Regions from separate parts of the Homo sapiens genome. Here all the other regions are linked to region 1. A link means that fine-mapping ties the variant in region 1 to the expression of a gene that starts in the linked region. Tissue or cell type: whole blood. Region 1 holds a variant in brackets; each other region holds the start of a gene. Each region is shown on its reference strand, or each on the opposite one. Region 1 overlaps LPP (LIM domain containing preferred translocation partner in lipoma). Region 2 holds the start of GFRA2 (GDNF family receptor alpha 2). Region 3 holds the start of MRC1 (mannose receptor C-type 1).

Region 1 (5,225 bases):
TATGGTTCAAAAACAATAATTAATGCTGATTTGTGTGGTGAGATACATATTAATCATCTTTATTTTTGAATTATACAAATATACAATACTATTGTCCCTCCGTATTTTACATCTGAAGAGAATTTAATTGCTTTTTTGATAATAAAAATAAACAGAGAGCCACAAAGAGATATCACCACACATGTATTAGAAAAGCTAAAATAAAAATTTGTACCAGATGCTGCTAAGGATGTGGAGAAATGATCTCTCACAATGCTGGTAGGCATGTGCAAAATTTTGTAGCCACGATGGAAAACTCTTTGGCGGTATTTTACAAAAGTAAACATGTACTAACCATATGACTCAGCAAATATACCCTTTGGCATTTAATCCAGAGAATCAAAATGTTATGTTCACGAAAAAACCTGTACATGGATGTTCATAGCAACTTTTTTTTTTTTATCATAATGACAAAACACTGGAAACAACCCAAATATCCTTTGATGGGCAGATGTTTCAGTGAAGTCTGGTACAGCCATACAATGGAATAATACCATTCAGCAGTAAAAAAGAATGAAGTATTGTTGGTATATGCAATAACCTGGACATGCTTAATGAAAAAACTGTCTCGAAAGGTTACATGTATTATATGATTTCATTTTAAGACAAAGCTCTAGAGATAAAGGACATATTCATGATTGCTAGGGGACAGAAATGGGTGGGTCGGGGGGGGGCAAGTACTGGTCATTCCTACAAAGAGGACGCAGCAAGAGTCTTTGTATGGGTGGAACAGATCTGTACCTCAATTGGAGTGATGATTACATGAATCTATACATGGGATAAAGTTACATAGAACTGTATGCACACACAAATCAATGCAGGTTATAAAATGGTAAAAACTGAGTAACTCCTAGTTAACAATAAGGTAACAATGTCAGTTTGCTGGGTTTTCGAATGTATTACAGCTTTATGAGCATTACCATTTAGGGAACCTGGGTAAAATGTACATGGAAACTCTGTACTATTTTTGCAACTTTCTATGAGTCCATATTTAAAAAAAAATTAATAATAGTAAAATAAAGGAATGCATATAGATATCTTAATGTATTCTTCTCTTACTCAAAGTGCTATCTTACATGCCATCTGAATTGCTTGCATGATACTTTGAAAGATCACTGCTATATGTATCCCTGCCAAAATGTATGGCTTAAACCTGTGGTTTTCAAAGCTGGCCAGTCATCAGAAAGACTTGGAGAACATTTTTCAAAAGAAAAAAATTAAAGCAAGTCCTAGGTCCCATCACAATTTTACAGAATCAAAATATCTGGCCATGGGGCCCAGGAATCTGCATTAAAACAAAGCAAAATAAAAAATAAAACAGAACTTCCCGGGAATTGTGATTGATGCTCAACCAACGTTTGGGAACCACTCATTTATTTCATTAACTTCAGGGACCAGTGCCTTAATCTCCTTTGAACCTTCTCCAAGTCCTGAGAGTGTACTCTTCCTCCCGTAGTTAATGATGGTAGCTTTTGAAGTCTTGAGAGTCTTTATCTTGTGAACATTGTACAGATTCAGAGACCTAGAGCATCTTTCATGTTGCTATTCTTTTCCCTCAGTGCTTTCATTATAGACACCAATCGTTTGCATATGTTGTCCTGGGTCATTTTATTTGGGATCCAAAACCAGAAAATTTCAAACAACAACAAAAAAATGGATTCTTCGAGAATGCCCTAGCCATGGACAAGCTTCTGCATTACAGAGCTCTTGCTATTGTGTTGCTTTGGGTAGCAATGCCTGAAATCTCAGCCAATTTTGGGTCACAGTAGGCCTATGTAAATTATCTAAAAATGGATTCATTATGGACATTATAAAAATAAATCTGACACCTGAGCCTTTGGGCAAATATACCATATAAAGAAATCATACCCTAGAATAACGATTAACCTAAAGAACTTAAAAAAAATCAGTATGATATTTTTATCATCCTTTCTTAAAATTACTGCATTCAGAGAGACCTGATGGCTGAGGACAGCACCTGGGGCAGAGGAGTATAGGTCATTGGGATGTGGCATCCTGAGTCTTCTAGCAGTTTGCTCTTCCAGCACTCTCCCTTATTATATGTTCTTTACATTGTTCTGTATGTCGCTGTCTTCAAACAGAATAGATAAGTCTACTAGTCAAGATAGACATATAACAGGCACCACATGTGCATAAAAATTGCATTATGTAAATTTAGTGCCGTAATATAATATGAAGGATGTCCTCTAGGAGGAACTGGGGAAAGCATCACAGACGAGGACACATCTGATCTGAGTGTTGGAGAATGAGTTAGTTGTTTACCAAGCAGAAAAGGGTGGTGGACAGCATGGCATGCCAAGTAAAGGGAACAGCATGTGCAAAAGCAGAGAATGGCCCCCATCCTGACCCTTGTAATTTTGGCAGCTCTTTGCTGATGTCCTCAGGCAATGCATCTGGGCTCCTGGGAATAGCTTTGCAATGTGAACAGAGTGACTTCACTATGGGTAGACCTAAATGTTCTAGCGTGCTCTGAAACTTACCTCTAGAAATAGCTCCAGGAAGTTAGGTAGCTTCAGAGAGGAAGGACCAAGAAATATGATCTTATACCACAGGCAAGAAGTACTTTCCTGGAGGTACTGGCCAGAAGTACTATTGCTATCTCTCTGCACTTGTCTGTTATATTTTAGAATGAAATGTGCCTGTGCATACAAATGCTAAGGCAAGAAAGAAAAAGCAAAAGGCAATTCTCTTTAAATCTCCTGAAATAATTTCAGGCAGCTTTTTTTACCTAGTCAAACACACACGCTTAAGAATGGAGTTGTAAGCTAACTTAATCATTTTTTGTTTTGTTTTGCTCTCTTACTTGTTCACACGTTGGGGTAATCCTGAGAAAACAGGAAGCAATGAAAGAAGGATTTTATTG[T/A]GAAATGTTCATTACAACTTGTAATTTTAAAATGTGTTTGTATGAGTGTGCACAAATGTGAATAAATTTTAGAGCACTTTCTCACATAATATCTAGTTTAATCACCAGAATATCCTGCAACGTTATTATAGTTCCTACATTATTATGGTTCCTAAAGACAAATGAAAAATCTGTGATTCAGAGACCCAAGGTTAGGCTAATAAATGTAGAAGTCACATTTGACCAAATTTTAGTATCTTCCCTTAAGTATTGGTAATGTACGATAAACACTATTTGGTAATAATGAATTATTACAATTACTAAAACAACTTATCTGGCAGAACAGTATCTTAACTATTTGAAAAATATTGTAGTGGATTTATTAGCTTCCATTTCATCTGAAGTCCACTTTGCTTTACTGCTTACTTTATCTTTCTAGCTACTCTGTAAAAAAGTTATTATCACCCTCAATCTGCCAAGTATAATGTATGTAAAGTGAAATAACTAGCATATTGCAAAGCTGGGAATTGAACCCTTGTCTCCTAAATCCAAGTCTGTAGCTGTTCCTCAGCAGTACACTGTATCTCATGTTAATGCCATTATTACTTGTATTAAATGAAATAATTTTTCCATCATTATTTTCCCGAATTATTACTATCCAGAGCGATTTGAAGGTTAAGGTCATCCAAATAATGTGTGAAAATTGCTTAAAATCAATCTCCTGTGCATGGATGTCTATGATGTATACAAATATAAAACAGCCAAAGTAGTCTCAAGAAGTTATTACCAAGTTTCTCAAATAGTGTCTCAAGGCGACATTATTTGACAAGACCTTTGGAATAACCATTTGGAATTTTCCTTAGTTCAGTTGAATTGTGTCATCTTGCTTAAACTTTTCAGATATCAGGGGTAGTTTTATTGACATTACAATGGAATTAAAATGACATTTTATTTTATTTTTTACCGTTCTATAGAAATGGCATTTTAATTCGTCATTATTTTTATTATTGATCTGTTAATGTTGTAATGACTTGGGTTTTAGTAAGGGCATCCTCTGTAAAAATTACCTCCTGGGAAAGAAATCTCCAAGTTCTATGAGGTCTCCCAGAAATATCACCACTTGAGGTGAGAGTAAAGTGTCATGAATGCCACCCAATGTGATTCCTGGTAGATAAGATTTCACTGTTTTATATCTTGACATCTGCATTAAATTCCGTTCTTTTACTGGGTCCTATTCACTTCCATCTTGTGCCATTGTTACTTAACCAGGCTCTGTAGTGGACAGGAAAAAGTAAAAACACGTCTTAGCCCTTAAACAGTTTATATTTTCATTAGAAATTCAACATATGAAAATGCCCAGTTAACTAACAATATAAAGCTTTACTGTACAGCTTCTATTTGTGAAGTGACTCCATGGCTAACTCTATCAGAAGAAAGAGTTTGCTTGGAGCCAAGGTAGTATTGGAAGGTTACAGAGAAGAAAGACTCAGGGAGGCAGTGGTTAAGCTTGTAGACTCTGGCATCAGATAGATCTGGGTTTCGAGTTTTGATTTTACCTCTTAATTCTCTGGAAACTTGGACTCACCAGGATAAGTGGCAACCTAAGTTCTTTCAGTTTTAAAATAGAGATAGTTATGCACTAGGCGTGGTGGCTCACGCCTGTAATCCCAGCACTTTGGGAGGCCAAGGGTGGATCACCTGAGATCAGGAGTTCAAGACCAGTCTGGCCAACATGGCAAAACCCCGACTTTACTAAAAATACAAAAATTAGCCGGGCGTGGTGGCACACACCTGTAATCCCAGCTACTTGGGAGACTGAGGCAGGCGAATCACTTGAACACAGAAGGTGGAGGTTGCTGTAAGCCACTGCATTCCATTCCAGCCTAGGCGTCAGAGTAAGACTCCATCTCAAATAAATGAATAAATAAAAATAATAAATAAATATATGAATAAATGAAATAGAGATATTTGTATCTTAAAGAGTTGTTTTCAAAGTTAAGTCATGACAAAATAATGACAAAATCAGTGGAAGCTGCAATCATTGTTCTTGCTATTATTATTGAAATGAAAATATGAACATTAGCTCTGAGGGTTCTATCCATAGTTTTTTTTAAAAAATTCTGATTATAAAATTTTAATTATAAAATCCCATATAGCTCATGCTGACCATTTAAAAAATAATCTTAGTTGTATCCTTGTTTCTTTTTGTATTTGCTAATAGAGATTTTAGAATTGGCTTGGTGTATGTTTGTCCTTGCTAGAATTATGATTCCTTTTTTGAATTTGCATTACACCTTTGTTAGAAGTAGAATTACTTTACTTG
Region 2 (5,225 bases), not on the chromosome of region 1:
TCAGATTTTATAGTAGCCCCTTCAGAATGAGAGTCCACTTGCCAGGGTTGACAGGAAGGGCTTCGGGATCACAGCGGGCCCAGAGCAACTTCCAGCTTCCTAGAGGAGCCCCTCCCACCCCAGAGAGAAGCTGCCTCTGGCTGAGGGAGGTAGGACCTCTGAGGCCACACCCTAGAGCAGGGACTTGCCCCCTTGGGGACTCGCACCTGGCGGGAAGCAGAGGGGACAGGCAGAGAGTCCAGAGCCTGTGTGGACACCCAATGACTCCGGTCCCCTATCCTAGTCTGGCGAGCACTTCTTAGACCACGCACATCCTCCTGTAACCAGCTCCTACCTCCCCACTCGTGGCCTTCCCAGATCCCCTACTGCAGGAGGGAGAGGGTGAGATCATGACCCCGCTGGGCAGCCTGGCTCAACACTGGCTACACAGCAAGCCAAGGTGGTAGAACTACACCCTCACTGAAGCAGACGTGTGCTCCTTACAAACACACTCACACACACACACACATACACAGTAGTTACCCGGCTCCCTCTATGGGAGCGTCTACTCCCTGGCAGCAGCCCTGCCTGGGACTCCCGGTGGTGCACAGCCTTGCAAACAACCGCCTTTCCTCACCTCCCTCCGGAGATTGCCATTTCCCAAGCAGCTGCGATTTCACCTAGCTTTAAAGGGAGAGAGGAGCTGGGAATTCTGTGTGGAAAAGAAACTGCGTGGGGCTCAGTGGCGCCAGGCAGCCTCTCCTCCCTGTCTTGGAGGCGGCGGGGGGGGCAGTGGGGGGGGTTTGCAGAAGGAGCAGTGGTCTTTGTTCAGACCCGTTTTTCCTCCCTCGCCTCCCACCCTCTTCAACGGAGAAAGCAAACTTTGGCCTCCCTCCCGCCTCTTCCCACCAGCCACGGGGGTCCGCGGCCCCCAGAGGTGGAGGAGGGAAGGCCGGGAACGGCTGCTCACAACCCTCCGCTCCCGCCCACCCATCTGGCTCGGGGCTCGGTGGGGAGAAACTTGAAAAGTGTTCCGGGGAGTGGAGCCGCCGGTTAGGGGCTCAGGGCGTGGGGACGCGGGCTCCGTTTGCCAGGCGCGGCTGGCAGGTGGGGAGTGACTGCCAGCGCTCCCCGCGCGATGTCCAAGCGGGAGCCGCCGGAGAAACCCGCGCCCTCCACCACGACCGACTCGGGGAGCAGACCAGGAAAGGCGGACCCCGCAGGACTGTTCTCTCCCCGCCTAGGAGCCTCTCTCTCCCTCCCTTCTTGCAGATCAAGAGTTGGATATTTTTTTTTCTTAAGTTGCCGCAATTCGAACCCATTATTTCGGGGGAGATGCGCGCTATACTGGCGTGTGAGCGAGCGCGGGTGTGTGTGTGCGTGCACAGTGTCTGCGGGGCTGGTTCGGATGTTGAGTCTCCCTCCCGATCCCCCTGCGTCGCCAGCCAGCCGCGGCTCCGGTCCCTCGTCCGCGTCCCTGCCGCCCGGCCCCGCTCGGTTCGCCAGCACCGGGCCCGGCTAGCTCCGCGGCGCGCTCTCCCCGCCGACCTCCCGCCAGCCCCCCACCGGCGCTCCGCTCGCCCCCCGCCTCCCCGGCTTCTCGCCTCCCCCTCGAGCTCGCCGCCCGCAGGTACTCACCTAGAAAGAAGAAGAGGCAGAAGACGTTTGCCAAGATCATGTTAAATAAATCCCACCGTTTTTTTGTCTTTCTCCCTTGGGTAAAAAAAAATAATAGTAGTAACAACAACAATAATAATAGGCAAGCAGTGGTAATCAGCCCCAAATCCAATGCGGAGATCCCAGCTAGTCCACCCGATGAAGATCCCGAGTCCTGCGATTCTCGCCTCTGGCTGGAGGGGGTGGGGTGAGAGGCGGGCGATGGGCTGCTGCCTCTCGACGCCCCCCTTGCCCGCTACAATCAAATATACGCGTATCTGTGTATCGGCTTTCTAAGCCAACAGCCCAGTCCTGGGGTCAGCCCTCCCCTCCAATCGTCCGGGAAGGCGTGAGTCCCCGCGGGTCCAATTCCCCTGCGCTTCCCAGGAGGGGCCTGGGGAGGTGGGGAGAGAGGCGATTTGCGAGTGAAGGGCTGGAAGGAAGCGGCGAGGGAGGGGGTCGGAATAAAATGCAAATAGAAAAGAAATCCACAGACGGGTGTCAGCGCCCAAGAACAATCCAGTCGGAGCTTCGAGGACGAGAGACTGGAGTCGCTTCTTTCGCACCAAGACGAAGACAAGATTCAAAAAAATCTTCTCCCGCTAACCCTTGCTCGGCTCACTTTTTTCTAATGGAATTCCAGTGACCGTGTGTCTCTGCGTGCGTGTGTCTTTCTCTCTCCTCTCTCTCTCTCTCCTCTCCCTCGCTCGCTCTTTGCTCTCGCTCTCTCCAGCTCTCCCTCGCTCTCCTCTCTCCCTCCCCCTTCTCCCACTCTCCCTGCTCCTCCCTCCGCCCGCCCCCTTCTCCCTTCGCGGCTCCCTCGCCCGGGCTCTCGCGCCAGCGCCCCTCTCCTCCGCCCCGGGCTCGGCGCTCGGGCTCCCAGGCGGCTGGCGGCGCGGGGCGCGGGGCGCGGGAGCGCGGCGGAGCTACGATGCTCTGCAGCGGCGGCGGCGACAAGGCGAAGGCGGTGGCGGTGGCGGTGGCGGCGGCGGCGGCGCCGGGGATCGCGGGCCGAGAGGAGAGCCCAGCCGCCGGCTCCCTCGGCTCAATCGCCCGCCCTTCCTGGGACTGACCTGCTGCCTTGGCCGGAAACTGACTGGCTCCCCCGGCTACGGCTCGGGCTCGAACCCACTCAAGCGTCGGCACCCTCCTCCTCCTCCCCCCGCAGCTCTCCCCACCCTGGGGACCGGCTGCGCCCTCCAACCCCCACTGCCCCTGCCCCCGCCCCCTGCGCCGCTGGGTCTGGGAAGCCTGGGGAGCTGAGCTGAGGCTGGAGGGCGCGGAGTCCGTGGGGCCCGAGCCATCCGGGGGCTCGGGGGGCAGGGCGTTAGAAAAACCCCAGCCGGTGGCCCGGGTCTGAGGGGGGCTCCACCCTCCGTGGGCTAAGGCGTCCCTGCGCCCAGGAGCCGAGGCCGACAAAGCGTCTCCCCGATGGTGCCAGGGAAAGGAATTATCCCCTTCGGCGCCGGCCCCGCGCGCCCCCGAACCCAACGCATCCTGCCGGCCCCGGCCTAGCCCCGCGCGCACATACACGTGTGCTCTCCGCGCGGACCTCGGGAACTTTGCCCTCACGCCCGCGGCGCGCTTGCCTCCCGCCCGCCCCGGCCTCCACCCCTTCGAGATGCCCCTTCCCCAGCCGGTCTCCCCTCCCCCCGGCTCGGGAAGAAGCCTGCTGGGCCAGGGCGCCCTGACCACCTCCTCGGAGGCCGGCAAACCTGCCTGAACCGCCCCAGAGGAATCGGGCAGGGGCTCGCACCCCACCCCGGCAGGAGGGCCCCGAGACCGACCCGGGCCGGGGCTCCGCAGCCGGCTGGGCTCCGAGGAGCTCGTCCCGAGGCAGCTCCCGGCTCCCTAGGCTCCGGGGTTGGGGGGTTCCTCCTCCCCTAGCCGGGAAGGGGGCGATTGATCCATCTGTCGGTGGGCCGGGCTCACCGGCGTGTTTTAGTCGCAGAATTTACAATAAACGCCCAGAAGGACCTAAAAGGAAGCGTCTGGCTGGGAAAGGGCTGGAGGAGAGGTGCGGCTGCGGTCACGTTCCGGCGAGAGCGGGAGAGGCGCGGGGTCGCGGTCGCGCGAGGGCTCACACCCACGCAGCCCGGCATCCCCCGGCCCTCGCGCCACGTTCCTCGCACTCAGCTCGGCGCGCACACACGGTGTCCTGGGGTGGGGTACACGCAGCGCCTCAGAAACTTTTCGTGCTGCCCAAAACAATCTGGGCTGCACGTAACATGAATTTGATAGTACCGTTTAAGATGCATTCTTAAATAACAAGACTCTGGAATCCAGTAAATGCTAGAAATCGACTTGGACGAGAAGGGAGGGGTCACTAACAAAACCAGCAGCCTTAGCTATTGGGAAAGCTAGAGGGAGCAACTTCCATCTTGAGGATTTAGGCGGGAAGGCGGCTGCTCCCGGCCTTGGAAGCACAGAGAGCGAGTCTCCTGTGAACGCCTCTTTCCTGTGGTCCGTCCTGGGGCATCGACCTTCCTCCCTCCATCTTCTCCCCCAGCCATCCAGTTGTGCCTGCTTCGAGCCTAGGCCCTAGCTGGGTAGTGACGAGTCTGGGACAGAGGGCTTAGGGATTGGAGTTGGGGAAAGCCCCCTTCAGGCCTGCCCTCCCTGTCATTCCTCCAAGCCTCTCATGTTCTAGGAAGTGACTTCGCATCTGACAAGGTCTCTTGGCTTTTTTTCCAAAAATTGGGGAGCATAAGGAACCGGCTTTGGATAAGTGTAGGTTAAAAGATAAAACTTGACAGGAATTACACTGCCAGGCAGGCTTGGCCTGGAGGCCCGAGGCTGGGAGCCTGGCCTAAATGAATGTCCCCCCTCTCATCTCCTCGACTTCCAGGGTCTTCTGGTTGTCCAAATACTCCCCACCACCACCCATTTCGGAATCTCACGCAGGCCTTCCCCCTTCCAAGGACCCTGCTCCAAACTCCAGAATTTCTGCTCAGCATATCCCTCTCCCCTTCCCCACAAAAAAGAATTTCACTTTCTTTTAACTTCATTTGAGCATAATGAGAGAAATTCTCTGAATCATATATGTAGTTCTCCCCTCCCACCTATCCAGAAAATGGGGCTGAGAAAGCAGCAATGAAGCCCTGGGGATGGTTCTCACTGAGCTCCCACGGGAGTAGGAAAGAGGATTCCGGTAGCAGGAGGTAAGTGGCCCTTCTGCGACCCAAGACCACCCAGCCATCCCAAGAACAGTAGAGAACACCAATCAGTCACCACCAGCATTCAGCTTGTGTGACTGCAGGGCACTCTGACCTTGGACCCTCTCTTACCTACTGCCTATACAGACGTATCCCATGACACCCCACCCTCTGCCCACCCCAACACTCAACCCAAACTGCTCTTAAAAATGGCATCATCCCTTATTTCCTGAGCATCTGCCATGAGGAAGACCCCCTGCCTTGTGCCGGGATCTACAGAGGAAACACAGTTGAACATGTACTATAACACCTTATAGATAAGAGGACTTCTGAACCTCAGTCATCTCATCTATAAAATGGGGATTAAAAAAGATAAACCAACGTTGTAGAAATTACATAAGATACTACACAAAGCGGCTAGTACAATGCCTGGCC
Region 3 (5,225 bases), not on the chromosome of region 1:
ATTGGGTTTAACAGGGCCTAATTTGATCATGAGTAGAGGAGCACCTGCAGTTACTTCAGTCAGTTCCTGTCCATTTGATGGCTGCTTAGATGGAGGGATGAATTCCTGGAGTTTCCCACACCACCATCTTCTGTGACATCCCTTCCCCAAGATTTGGATTTATTTTTTGCCCCAGTGGCCTCTTGTAGCCTGATAAATCTTTGTTTCAACGAGGTCAAGGTCATGGGGTAAATTCTTTGTGGGGTGGTTGGCTGCATTTTGTTTAAACTTCACAGATTTTAGTACTGATCCTAATTTTTAATTTTACTAATGTGATATACACACTTATGTAATTAAAAAACAAACCCTGGGCCAGGTATGGTGGCACACGTCTGTAATCCCAGCACTTTCAGAGGCCAAGGCGGGCGGATCACTTGAGGTCAGGGGTTTGAGACCAGCCTGGCCAACATGGTGAAACCCCGTCTATACTAAAAATGCAAAAAATAGCTGGGCATCATGGCACGCGCCTGTAATCCCAGCCACTTGGGAGGCTGAGGTAGGAGAATCGCTTGAACCCGGGAGGTGGAGGTTGCAGTGAGCCCAGATTGCACCACTGCACTCCAGCCTGGGCGACAGAGCAAGACTCTGTCTCAAAGAAACAAACCAACCCTGAATGTGATTATATACATAATTCAATTAAATGTATTTGCTTCTGAAATATATATAAATGTAAATTAGGCAGTCACTTTTGTATATGATTTATTTATATTTGAAAGCCACAAATGACCCATTTAAACTATTATTTTCATAAGCCAGTGAAACAATGTCTGAGAAACATTTTTGTTTTGTCTGTTCTGTTCTATAACCATCATTTTTTTTTTCAGTCATGTACAGCCTTAGTGACAAAGAAACTTTGGTCCTCTGTCCTACATTTTCACTATCTTTTTCCCTCCGGTCAGGATAATCTCAAATTTACATGTTAAAAACAATCAGTAAGAGAACTACATCACATTTCTAATAGGATGGAAACTTTTCAACTTTATCACAAAGACAACGAATGTGGAGGCTTTCCGTTTGAAGATAAAACTATTCATTTAAAAAATTTTAAAAATTACAATGTTTCCAGTAGCTTCTTTTTGAATTACTAACATATTCCACACTCTAGTAACGGTTTGGCCAGCTAATCGTTAGTTTCTGCTTTAAAATGTTCTAAATTCCTGTTCTACTTTTGAAAAATGACAACATAAATGTTTGGAGGGTTATTTTCTGCTTAATGAAAGATCTAGAAACATATTTTATTCTAAGAAAGAATTCCACTTGCCTTTAAATAAAGATATACCTTTTGACCAAACAATCAGATTTTCTTTTTCTTTTTTTTCTTTTCTTTTTTTTTTTTGAGATGGAGTTTCGCGTCTGTCGCCCAGGCTGGAGTGTAGTGGTGCGATCCTGACTCACTGTAACTTCCACTTCCCAGGTTCAAACGATTCTGTTGCCTCAGCCTCCTGAGTAGCTGGGCTTACAGGTGTGCATGATCACACCCGGCTAACTTTTGTATTTTTAGTAGAGACGGGTTTTTGCCATGTTGACCAGGCTGGTTTCAAACTCCTGACCTCGGGTGATCTGACTGCCTCGGCCTCCCAAACTGCTGGGATTGCAGGCGTGAGCCATTGTGCCTGGCCAGATTTTCTTTTTCTAGCAAGGGGACCCACTTAAACTTGAAGAGGACCGGGATGGTTGAGGCTGGGCAGCAAGGCTTTACTGCAAATCCTTTACCACTGTTTTTTCTGGCTTTCTAGAGAACGTTCTAGCAAAAGGTTTCTAGAACTTTCTCCTTCCTGGCCTGACTGACATTCCCTCTTAGGTGTAGCCTCCTTTTCACTTTTCTTCTGCCTGGAGGAAATGAAGCTCCACGGAACTTTCTGTTGAAACTTTCCAAGAAAAAAAAGAAAGGCTCTAAGCACTGAATGTGGAAACTGAAGGGGATGAGCTTCAACTCTGAAGTGTTTCCAGCGTAAAACTGTCCTTTCCAGGGCCCGTGTGGCTGTCACTTCAGAGTGGAGGTTGTCTGCTGAGGGACCCCTGACTCAGCTGCTTCCCAGGGGAAGCTCCGTCTTCCGGCACAGGTAATGGCCTGCAGCTTGATCTCCACCCAGCCCCATCTGAGCAGGCCGGGAGCTCCCAGGCTGTTTCACTTCTCTCCTTCCTGACTCCTCACCATCACCATCGCCCTCTCTCCTCCCCACCCCGCCACTCCTCTCCCACACGTGTCCCTTTCTCCCCTTCCTCTGCGTCTGCTCTTCTCAGAAGTTAGCTTACGAAGCAAAGTTGTTACTTTGAATTCCTGTTTTTCCAGCCACCCTCATGTGACAGGATGTCTCCTCAGTAGAGGCTTTCCCTAAATTCAGGAGCCCTTTAAAAGGGAGGGCTTCCTCTGTAGTTCTTTTCAGCTGGGCAGCTCTGGGAACTTGGATTAGGTGGAGAGGCAGTTGGGGGGCCTCGTTGTTTTGCGTCTTAGTTCCGCCCTCCTGTCCATCAGGAGAAGGAAAGGATAAACCCTGGGCCATGAGGCTACCCCTGCTCCTGGTTTTTGCCTCTGTCATTCCGGGTGCTGTTCTCCTACTGGGTAAGTCTGCTCTGAGGCAGGGGATCTCTGACCTGGGGGGCCGGAACCACACCTTCCTCTTCTGGGTTACTGTGAATGGGTTCCTTTCAACATCTTTGTGAGGAGGAAACGGGGTTCCCCTGCACCACGCAGTCCACGGCTAAGCCTGCTGCCTTCACCTGGCGGCCAGGCATGGGAGGCCTGGAGTTGGAGGAGGGAGGAGGATGCGTCTCAGGTCTCGGTTGCTGCCCTGCCGGGAACCCTACAGACCTTCAGTGTCCTCCTGACTTCTCTCATCGCTCGTTGTTCCTTCCCTGTTTTCTTCGTGCAGAAATTTCCTGCTCTGTGGTTTACTCTTTCTGGTTTTCAATTCACACTATTTCTGTCTCACCGCCAACAAACACCTTCTGAGTGTCTCTGGCTGGAAGGAGGGCAGCCCTGATGTCTCCCCGCGTCTTAGGTCCGAGGGTATCATCGCAGATCATCCCCCCAAAAGAGATTCTAAGCAATTTCCATACTCATTTTTTTTTCTGCCAGAATCATTCAGACACTTGATTGTTAGAAAGTTCATCCTTATCTGTATTCTAGACTATTCAAACTGCCGCATAAGCAGATCGATTCCTGTTTTTCTTCTTTTTCTGGAGATTAGAGATTACTCATTAGGAACAGCTCCAGAGTTGTTCAAATTCTCAAATACCTTTTCCAGTCTGTCTTTTCTATTTCTCTATACTCAGTTGCTTAAACTTCAGGATGGGAGTGCCTCGGGGGATTTTCATTCCTGGTTCTATTTGGAGATGATTTAGAAGAGATTTCAAATTTGATTTTTTGATTTCTGATCCCCCTTTAATTCTATGAAATCAACAAACACTTGCAGAGAATGGTTTGTGCCTACGATCTACTCTATGCACTGATGTGAAGGCGGGTGGGAAGTTTCCTAGGAAGAGAGTGTTTTAGTACCGCAAATGTTAAATCATAAGTATTGAGTGGTAGTGATTACAAAAACACAAGTGAAGGCGGTATGGTTTACATCCTGTCTCTCTCACTCACTAGCTTTGCGACCTTGGGCAGGCTACTTTATTTCTTTGTGCTTTAGTTTCCATGTCTATAAAATGGAAAGAATAATATTACCTGCCCCCATCAGTTCTTGTGATGATTCAATGAGTAACAATATGTGAAATGTTTAGAACAGAGTATGACCCATAGTAAGTGCCTTATAAGTGTTAGCTATTAAAATCAGTGGCAGAAAAGAAGTACATAAAAGGCCAAATAAAAAGGATAGATGAAATTAATTTTATTTTTATTTTTGAGACAGATTCTCATTTTGTTGCCCAGGCTGCAGTGCAGTGGCATGATCTTGGCTCACTGCAACCTCTACTTCCTGGGTTCGAGTGATTCTCCTGCCTCGGCCTCCCAAGTAGCTGGGATTACAGGCATGCACCACCATGCCCAGCTGATTTTTGTAGTTTTAGTAGAGACAACGTTTCACCATGTTGGCCAGGCTGGCCTCGAACTCCTGACCTCAAGTGATCTGCCCTCCTCAGCCTCCCAAAGTGCTGGGATTATAGGCATGAGCCACAGCGCCCAGCCCTGATATTATTAATGTATTTTATTTCACCCAGTAACTCGGAAATATTATCCCTCAACATTTAATCGATTTGGAATATTTTCCCATTCATTTCTTAAAACTAACTCTTCAAAATCTGGTGAGTATTGCATACTTATAGCATGTCTCAATTCACAGTAGTGTCATTTTAAGTGTACAATGGTTACATGAGGTGACTGGCTATCATACTGGGCAGCACAGACACAGTGCCTAATTTTCTTTAAACTGACTCAATAATGCTTTGAGCAATAGTGTTTCTCGGTTTGCTCAGGAGTGTTTCCCTCTTCCTGACAGCAGGATGCCCTCCTCTGACTAATGTCTTCCTCTTCATAGGCACAAATATTGGGGAGAGAAGGGGGATGCTGAAGATCTGTTTACTTGGAGAATAAACAAACAAAAAATTCAAGGGACCCCCCTTCCAGATTTTTTTTTCCTACGTGAAAGCCTGTAATTTGTGTTGTTTTGTTTTTTGAGACTGGTTTCACTCTGTCACCCAGGCTGGAGTGCAGTGGTGTGATCATGGCTCACTGCAGCCTTGACATCTGGGCTCATGCAATCCTCCCACCTTGGCCCACTCCCAACTCCCCAGTAGCTGGGACTTTGGGCTTGAGCCACTATGCCAGGCTAATTTTTAATTTTTTTTATTTTTTTTTATTTTTGTAGAGATGGGGTCTCACTATCTTGCTCAGGCCGATCTCAAACTTCTGGGCTCTGGTGATCCTCCCACTTTGGCCTCCCATAGTGCAGGATGATAGATGTGAGCCACTGCACCCAGCCTGTAACTTTTATTTTATCTTTTCTTGGCCCGAGAAGCATGTGATTGGAGGAATTTGTGTAAAGGCAGGGCACCTGCTTAGTTAGCAGCAGGTTAAACTATGCGAAGCCCCAACACCTCTCCCCTGGCTTCCTGCCCACTAGGAAAACCCATGGGAAGGTCTCCCTACTTGCCATCAGTTTATTTCTTTTCAATCCACACCCCTTCCTTCCACCTTCAGGAGAGCATCCCACAGCATTAGCACCATAAGTCTCTGTGGGCTGCTG

The links. PIP is the estimated chance that this variant, and not a neighbour inherited with it, causes the effect. A credible set is the group of variants that fine-mapping cannot tell apart.
Region 2: it holds the start of GFRA2, and the variant in region 1 is fine-mapped to the expression of GFRA2 in whole blood (TOPMed, PIP above 0.99).
Region 3: MRC1 starts here. The variant in region 1 is the best candidate, but not a certain one, in a credible set for the expression of MRC1 in whole blood (TOPMed, PIP 0.66).

The regions. Positions count from the first base shown.
Region 1 is chr3:188,415,072-188,420,296 of GRCh38, forward strand. All of the region lies in intron 4 of LPP (LIM domain containing preferred translocation partner in lipoma), which reads left to right. Among named protein-coding and RNA genes, the nearest start is that of LPP-AS1, 150 kb to the right of the region's middle. The variant T/A (reference allele first, on the strand shown) is at 2,924.
Region 2 is chr8:21,786,503-21,791,727 of GRCh38, forward strand. It overlaps GFRA2 (GDNF family receptor alpha 2), which reads right to left and starts at 2,373. Exons shown (of 9, transcript NM_001495.5): 1 at 1,618-2,373. The coding sequence starts at 1,657.
Region 3 is chr10:17,806,925-17,812,149 of GRCh38, forward strand. It overlaps MRC1 (mannose receptor C-type 1), which reads left to right and starts at 2,424. Exons shown (of 30, transcript NM_002438.4): 1 at 2,424-2,602. The coding sequence starts at 2,542.